Linked DNA regions of Homo sapiens: region 2 is linked to region 1. The links come from fine-mapping of genetic effects on gene expression. A gene starts in region 1. The other region holds a variant in brackets. All regions are shown on one strand. Distances are between the middles of the regions.

Evidence for each region. PIP is the estimated chance that this variant, and not a neighbour inherited with it, causes the effect. A credible set is the group of variants that fine-mapping cannot tell apart.
Region 2: its variant is the best candidate, but not a certain one, in a credible set for the expression of WNK2 in esophagus muscle (GTEx, PIP 0.51).

The regions. Positions count from the first base shown.
Region 1 is chr9:93,181,945-93,186,187 of GRCh38, reverse strand. WNK2 (WNK lysine deficient protein kinase 2) reads right to left here and starts at 2,049. Exons shown (of 30, transcript NM_006648.4): 1 at 1,803-2,049; 2 at 578-1,260. The coding sequence starts at 1,258. RefSeq lists an enhancer at 1-11.
Region 2 is chr9:93,263,732-93,267,974 of GRCh38, reverse strand. WNK2 (WNK lysine deficient protein kinase 2) reads right to left here. Exons shown (of 30, transcript NM_006648.4): 15 at 4,241-4,243; 16 at 3,942-4,058; 17 at 59-229. LOC124902214 (a long non-coding RNA gene) reads left to right here. Exons shown (of 2, transcript XR_007061668.1): 1 at 1-533; 2 at 2,395-2,827. Among named protein-coding and RNA genes, the nearest start is that of WNK2, 82 kb to the right of the region's middle. The variant A/G (reference allele first, on the strand shown) is at 2,490.

The DNA of each region.
Region 1 (4,243 bases):
CCCAGAGCTCTACCAGGCACCACCTCTGGGTCACAGGCCCTGGGTCAGAAGAAGTCTCTGCAGGTATCCCTGCTGGGGCAGCCACGGCTTGCTGGACACAGGAAAGTACTAATTTATGGGCAGCCCAGAGCCCCCAAAACACTCTGACTGCACACACCGGGCCTTGAAGCCTCCACACTGTTTTGCAAAGACACAACAGTCCAGACTCCCTGGGTCATTAAAGTAGGTCATCGGGACTGGAGAAGCAGCAGCCTAAGAGACACAGCCTCCGAGGCCCACTCTCCAGGACCCTCTCTACGCCCACAGCGTGCACACTTACACCAAACGCACAACAGAGGCCTGCCCTCGCCACCAGCTGACTCACAAACCGCAACCTGCGCACGGACACAGCCAGGCCCCACATGCCGTCCGCACACCTGGTATGCATCCTGCCAGCCATCCACACAGAGGGTGACACACATGGAGCCCCGCCGCCCCCAGGGCTTCTTAAGGCCAGGCGCAGGAGCAAGGACAGGCCCAAGGACGCACTCGCGGACAGACCCTGCGGAAAGCCCCCTGCGGGCTGGGGCACCCTCACCTGCAGCTCACACCAGGCCACCTCCACCCAGGTCTCCGTGTCCAGCCCCTTGTAGACCGTCTTGAAGGAACCGCGGCCCAGCTCGATGTCGAACTTGAGGAAGCGGCCGTCCAGAGAGGTGGCCACGGCCTTGAGGTCGTCCTCGTCGTCCTCCTCCTCTTCGGGCTCGTCCCGGCGAGTGCGCCCGGGCTCAGGCTTCGCCTCGGCCGCCCCCTCATCCTCCTTCCTCACGGTCGCCGCCGCCTCCTCCCTGGGGCCGCCGTCGGGGGCAGGCGCGGTTTCGACAGCGGCTGCGATGGGGTCCGGGCCGGGCTCCTGCGTGCCCACGGGCTCGGGGCCGGCGTCCGCGGGGGCTCCGGGGGCTCCCGGCTGCGCTACCAGCGCTGCGGGCGCGGGGGCGGCGGGGCGTCCGCGGGCGCGCTCCGCGATGAGGCGGCGCGTCTTGCAGAGCAGAAGCACCCGGCGCTGCAGGGGCTGCGGGGGCTGCGGGCCCGGCGCCTCGGCTGCCTCCAAGCCCGGCGGCTCCTCCTGGTCCGACTCTACCACGCTGCGCCGCAGAAAGCGCTGGGGCCCCGGCCGCGCCGCCTTCGCCCGAGGCTCCGCCATGCCCGCGGGCCCCGCGCCGCGCCCGGGCTCCATCAGCGTGCCGGGGACGTCTCGGCGGCCGCCATCGCCGTCCATCTCTGTGGGCCAAGGACACACAGGCCCGCGTGAGCGCCGGCCCTGCCGCACCTGCCCAGGCCGCCGGATGAGACAACGCCGCCCTAAGCCCGCAACCTGCCCAGCCCCGGCCGCGGAGAGAGCCTGCGGGGGCCGTCTCTGGGGGCCCTGGGAAAGGGGGGCTGCAGACGGGACCAGAGGCTTGGGTTGGGGAGGAGGGGTCCGTGCCCTGCTCAGCCCCAGGCTGCGGAGAGGGACGGGCCTGTGGTGTCCCTGGAACCCTGGGAGAGAGGACCTGCTAGGGTGTCCCTGAGGGCCCCGGAGGCCGGCAGAGGGATCTCGCGCCCTGCCCAGCCCTGGCCCAGGAGGGTTCTGCTAGGCTGTCCCGGAGGCAGCTGTAAAGGGGATAGGGAAGCCCGGGGGTGGGAGGAAGGCAGTGGCCCGGCGGCGGCTCCACAAAGGACGCGGGCCCGGGGCGCGGGAGGGGCGCGCGGGGAGGGGGCTGCAGCGCCGCGGCGCGCACACAAAGGCGGCGAGCGGCGTTGAGGGGAGGCTCGGCACTCACAGGGCGAGCGGACGCCGTCCATGCCCGCGGCCCGGCGGCCAGGGCGTGCGAGGCGGGAGAGATCACGCTTCGAGGACGGGGTCCGAGTTCCGGGCGAGGTCCGCGCTGGGGTGGGGGCCGTGGCGCCGCTCCAGCTCCTGCGCGCTGCTCTCTCGGGCCGGGCCACTGCGGGGCCGCGCTCCCGCGTGCTCCTGCCGGCTTCGCGCGGCTCCGCTCCCGCACCGGCTCCGACCCGGCGCGCGGGGAGGGCGGGGCTCCGTTCGCCCCGCCCCGGACCGGCGCAGGGGGCTGGGCCTGGCACGCCCACCTGGCTGCGGACGGGCTGGCTGACTGGCAGGCGCGCGCGGCCACCTGCGGGCCGGCTACCTGGGCTCCCACCCGCGGTTCTTTGCTCGAGGTAGCGCTCCTGTCCTCTGAAGTTCTTTGGAACGCCCCGCAGGGCTGTCAGCTGCGGAGGACCCCGTTTCTTCCTGAGAGGAGGCAGCAGGCTCAACGCCTCAGCACGCCGCAGCCCGGCGCGCTAGACCTCAAGGCCCTGTGCCAGGACAGAATGGGCAGGCTAGGAAGAAAAGGACCAGGGGTACCGCCGCCCTCGGGAGCCCAGCCTGGGGCTAAGCCTGGTGGGGCTCAGCGTGTCCTTTCCTGCCCTCACTTCACCACCAGGAACCATGAGGACCTCATCATCACCCAGGGAGGCACTGGTGATCATTATGCCCATTTCACAGTCTAGAGCAAACTGAGGCGCCAAAGGCAGAAGTTATATGCTCTAAATCCCAGAACTTTCAAGACCGAAGCTGAGCTGGAATGCCTTGGATGGGATATGGAGAGGCTTCCAGAAGCCCCTTGACCCAAAGTGTTCTTCCTTCCCACCTCTGCCAGATGCCACCTCTCCCGAGAAGTCTTCCATGATCTCTAGCTCCTTCCTCCTCTAGACCCCCACGGACAAGCCCTCTCTTGGGCGTCTCTGGCCCTAATGCAGCAGGTGACCTGTGTCAGTAACCATACTGCTAAGTTCTGAGCCCTGCTCCAGGCAATGCCCTGAGCTAACACTTCACCCTTACCCCAGCCTCCATGATCCTAGGTGAGGAAACTGAGGCACAAGGGAGATACCAGAGTATTCTCATCTCAGTCCCCATCCCACTGGGCTGGCACCCCCATCAGATACACACACACTTCCAGAGATGAAAAGATGCTTGTGGGCCTGTAGGCCTTGGAGCCCCTGGCACAAAATAACTCATGTGGCATAAAAGCCAGCAGAGGCGATATCTCACCTTCACAATGTAGAGGGAAGAATATGCCAGGCCAACTGTTACCCAGAGAAGCAGGACTTCCTGGAGCCCCGCTGGGCACTGGCACTGGCTGAAACTAATTTGTGAGGGGCAACAGTGAACATCCCTTCCCAGCTCTGGGTTCAGCAATGCCACCCTGTAGCCTGAAGTCAGCAATGCTGGGAGTATTTACACTGCGGAAATTGGCAAACACCTCAAATCAGGACTTTTCTCCCCAGAGAGCCAGTGGTTAAATAGTGTGCTAGGTGTAGGGCTATGCATTTGGCACTTGCCTGTTATTTATATAATCTAATCTACCGTGTGAGACAGGCATTCATTCCGGGGCTCAAGTCCGCTGGCATGAGCCCAGAGCTCACACGAGGAGGAGGCCAAACAGCAGACGCCAGCTCTGCAGGACAGAGAGGCCTGAGGGACAGGGATCTAAGTTGCATCTCCTGGGGCAGGAGTCTTCCAGGTAGAGGTCAGGGGTGGAAAAGGATCTTTTCTGTCTTCCCTTTGGAGGCTAAAGACCCCCCAACCTTGCCCCTAACCAGCTGAGTGAACTTGGGCAAGTCCTGGTCCTTCCTGAGCCTCAGTATCTGGCCCTGCAGAGTGGGCTGATCATCCTGACTTGCCCACCTTAAAAGGCTGCCAATTCCTTGTAGATTCAGTCAATCTAGGAAGGGCACCAAGTCCACAGACCTGTTCATGATGGGTGTGTTCAAGCCTATCCAAGGGAAAACCAGGATGGGACAGAGCTAAGCGTGTTCTGAGACCAGCACACACCTATCTGGCCTCCTCCTGCTCCCAACAGGCCACACTGGCAGTGTGTGGGCAAAATACCTGCCAGCATCGGAGAAGGTTCATCAGCACCCATGGCTGCTGCCCACCCACACTTGTACACATGCGTGGGAAAGGATGGCTACACCCACAAATCAGCAGGGAGCAGCCCAGGCTGTGGGGAGTGGGGGACAGCCTGTCCCTGAGAGAGTACTGTGTGCTCTCTGAGCCCTTGGGGTGAATTCACGCATCTCTGCTTACACACCTCCCATGGTGGAGAGCTCATTCTCTCTGCCAACCCATGACCATTAGGGTACACAGCTAAGTCAGTAGTGGACAGGTCACAGTTTCCTCTGCAAGGAATCTCAGGCTGGGCTCAGGAGCAGCTCCTGG
Region 2 (4,243 bases), 82 kb before region 1:
CCCACCTGCCCAGCCACTGCACTCTCACCACCTCCCACCCCGGATTTCACAACCTCACCTCCCCGGTGCCCAGGCCGCAGGTGCTGAGGTGTGGCGGGCTGGTCCCTGGGTCGGAGCCACGGTCGGCGTCTGTGTCCTCGCTGAGCATGTCCTCTGCCTTGTCCATGACATCCTTCATCTGCTCGATGAACGTTTCCCGCTCGGCCTGCAGGATAAAGTCATGCTCCACCTGCAAAGGGACATACTGCCAGTGAGGACCAGCTGCAAGGCCAAGACCACCCTAGGTCTTCATCTGGATTGACGGATGTCTACCCTGTACCAGGCCCCAAGGGAAGAATGGTGAAAGGGTGCAGTCCCCAAGACAGGGGCTGGACAGCTCAGCAAGTGACATGGATGGCCCCAGGATGGGAGGAGAGCAGCCTCATCTTGAGAAGCAACTCCCTCCTCCAAGCATGGGACCTGGGCCAGCAATGCCCTGCCCCAGCTGGAGCTGGTTACAGACCCTGAGGCCGGTCCAGCCATCTTCAGAACAGGTAAGTGCATAGGATGCAGGGGGCCGAGGACGGGGACTGGGAAGAGGGGAGGGGGTCCATCTGGGCACAGGTGCCCAGGCAGTCATGACAGACAAGAAGGATGGATTTGAAGGCAAAGGTTCCAGCCAGCAGGAGGTTGTGGGGGACAGAAAGCAACAGGGGGACGGGAAGGTTATAGCAGGATGGCCATATGTCACCTGTCGGTCTGCGCACCCCCTGCTCTCCCAGCCTCAGGCTTTGACCTTCAACTATGGCCCGGGCACACAGGCAAGCGTGGCCTGATGTCCAACGAGCAGCTCCTGTCATGGCTGAGGGGAGGTCCCACACCACAGCCTGAATGCCACGAAGCCTCCAGACCAGGGGCTCAGGAGATGTCCACAGTCTCCAACTTTCACAGTGGGCATGTGGCCCTGGGCTCACACCGGCTCTGGCTAAATCCTCGGCCATTCAGGCAGAGAAAATGCTGTGCATCTCATAAAACCATAACCAATGGAAGAGGTCAGCCTGTGCCACCACCCAGTGGGGTCCAGACCCTGCCCCTTTCCTGCCATGGCACCTCCTCCCAGGCAGACACCTCTGCAGTCACCGAGATGCTCTAGGCCCTGCCTGGGGCATCTGTGGTCTCAGATCCCTTCTAGGATGGGCACATCTGCCCTACTATAAACAGCTGGCTGAAAAGCAGAGCTCCTCTGCGCTCCACACTCCCCTGGCACCCCAGACCCCAACCCCAGGAGCACCACCTGCATACACCTCCAGACAAAGTGCTGGCTTGTGCTGTGTTCCGTGATTCACCACTTAATTTAGTGTAACATGTGACTGCAATGTTGTCTAAGAGGAGTACACTGTGGCCAAAGTTGGAACATCCAGCCAGCTGTGACTGGAGTGCCACATACGAGAATTTAAGCAACGTTCCAATTTTGTGAAATTTTCACTAAACAAAACTGAACTAGAACCCCTTTGCAACTAGAAAATGTTTTCCTATTATGTTTCTTTTCAAGTATGTTGAGAATAAAATTAACTTGAAAACAAAATAAAAATCTAAAAATACAAGGTCCAGGTAAAACCTGGCATTAGAATCCACGCCAATTAAATGAAACTTCTGCAGTTCCACCTTTACTAAGGGGCTGGCAAGGTCGTCATGGTCAGAATGATGAACCCAAGGCCTGCCGACCTCTAACCACTGATGGGACATTCAGGGACAGCTGGTACCTCACACTCACAGAAAGACAGTCCACAGGGCGGGCAGAAGCTTGTCTAAACAGCGCCTGTCCCACAGGCCACACACCCACCCTTCAACTCGAACCTCTGGAGCCAGTCTGTCCCTGGGATAGGAATGGGCTGTGAGGAGGAGGGCTGCTGGGCTGTTTTTATGGACCAAATTTGTATATCTGTAGCATGCTTACTTCACACAGGTATGTTAGGTGACTTGGTTTACTAAGATGGCAGAAAAAGCAATAAAATGAGAGGAGTATCCGAGTGCTGAGTGAAAAAAACAAGGCTGAGAAGATGCTATTTTTACAAAGCACACAGCTAAAGATAGCCCCATTGCTTACTGTGCAGGACTTACATGTGTGCAGCTCACAAAGACTCACACACAGAGACACACAAGAAGACTGAAAACCAGGGGGCCAGTGGACACGACACAGGCTGATGTGGCTGATGTCGCATGTGTGGCTTCCTGCTCGGGCAGGCAAGCACTGGAAGCGTCAGCCGCACATGCAGCATCAGCTGGTGGCTGAGTGATAACTTCACGGGTGTTCACTTTATTATTATGCTTTATCATGTTTGAAACACATGTGTATAAAGTAATACAAGACACAGGTTTAAAACACAGTAAGATGAGAGAAGAAATGTTCTCCAGTTTCAGTGGCCCAGTGAGGACCTGGTGTTTGTGCTGCGCTGACGAACCAGCTGCTTGCTGCTGACAAAGACTCCTCCCTGACCAAAGCGCAGCTC[A/G]CGCCTCTGACCCTCCAACTAGGCTTGACTAGGCCCCATCATGTCTTCAGCCTAAGCCAGTTGTAGAAAGAATTCCCAGCCTTTGTATCTGACCATATTCCTCATCTCCCACCTTTGAGGTTGAACAAAGCCTCTCACCCACCCCCAGCAAGGATCCTGTTACGAGGGTTTCTCCAGAATCCCTGACCTTGATGTCTCCTCTTAGCTATTTTCCAGCCACCCATCACCACACTGCTCCTCTGCTACCAATCCCCTGTGGTCTCTGCTGCATTTGGAGTTAAACTCATTCTCTCTCGCTTATTGCCACAGTCCTGAATAAAGTCTTCCCGACCACTGTAGCAAGCGTCAGAAGAATTTCTCTAATGCTGCGGGGGATTATGCTCTGGACCTGGGATCTGGGAGGGCTTTGTCCAAGGTGTCTCTGCAAAGCAGACACTAAGGCAGGGACTTGCTCCCTAGGAGCAGAAAGCCAGGGGCTTCCCCCTGCAAAGCCCACATGAGGCTTTCACGAAGCCAGGGCAGGGGTGGCCAGGGGGATGCAGCCCAAGGGGGCAGCTTTCTGATGATGTGCAATGCAGCAGCCGCAGGCAGGCACGTGGGGCAATCTATGATATTAACTTGAGTGGTATATTCTATTCCCTACTCATGCCGGCCTACTCCAGGCACTTGGTGGCCATCTGGAGTGAGCGCTACAACACTGTCCAGTGTGCTGCTGGCCCCTTTAGGACCTGGCTCCCTAAACCTCACTGATGCAGGAATAATGGTCTGGGGAGAATGTTCTCCTGGGAGGCAGTCACGGATGCACCAGGAAATTTGAGGACCACATGTACATCCTTTCCATGTTTCTTCGTGCGTGCTTTCAGCTGGAGAGTTTCTGAGGGCCCGAAAACGATCCCCACTCCTAGCCTGGCTCAGGTGCTGGGGACCACAGGTGTGGGGCTGTGAAGGCCTACAAGGTGCTCATGGACTCAGGTTGGTCTGCACAGGCAGGGAGGGGTGGCTCCAGAGGGAGATGCAGGCAGAGCTGGGTGGGCACATGGGACATGGGTCAGGGCTCAGAGCCCGCACTCCAGCTGGGGAGGCTGGAGGAAGCTCTAAGCAAGGACCACAGGACATCAGACTCCGGGATGCCCTCCCGTGCCTCACTCAAGGAACCTACCCACAAGGCTTCCTTTTATTTGGAGGAAGGGCTCAGATGCTCCAGAAGCCCTCAGGGAGCAGCATCTTAGAATGGTTAGAACATCCTTCAAGCTGTTCTTCCAAACCCAAGGGGTTTCCGCCCAGTGTGGGGAAGAGCCCGAGGCGTAAAAGGTCAGCACTGTCCCGAAAAGCCCCTGGGCCAACCGACACCTCCACACAAGGCCAGGCTCGACATGTGACCTGTGGCGCTCTGCTCAGGCCCACACGTGTCCAAGAAACACCGGGAGCCAAGCCACCCAGACCCAGCCTCACCATATACGTGGCAATTTCATCGGGTGCGTCCCCGTCCAAGTCGAACTTGAAGGTCACCATCTTGTGGTTGTGCGTCTCCAGCTGGCACTCCACCATCTTGTCCCCAGTGTTGCACACCTGGAAGGGGCAGCATCAGCACCCACCACGGGCGTACCCACACGTGCACCCGCCACACCCCCACACACCCCCAAGTACCCCTCCCCCCCACCCCCACCACACCCCCGCCACGGCCCCACCCCCACCACACCCCCACCATGCCCCCACCCCCACCACACCCCCGCCACGCCCCGCCCACTCACGTT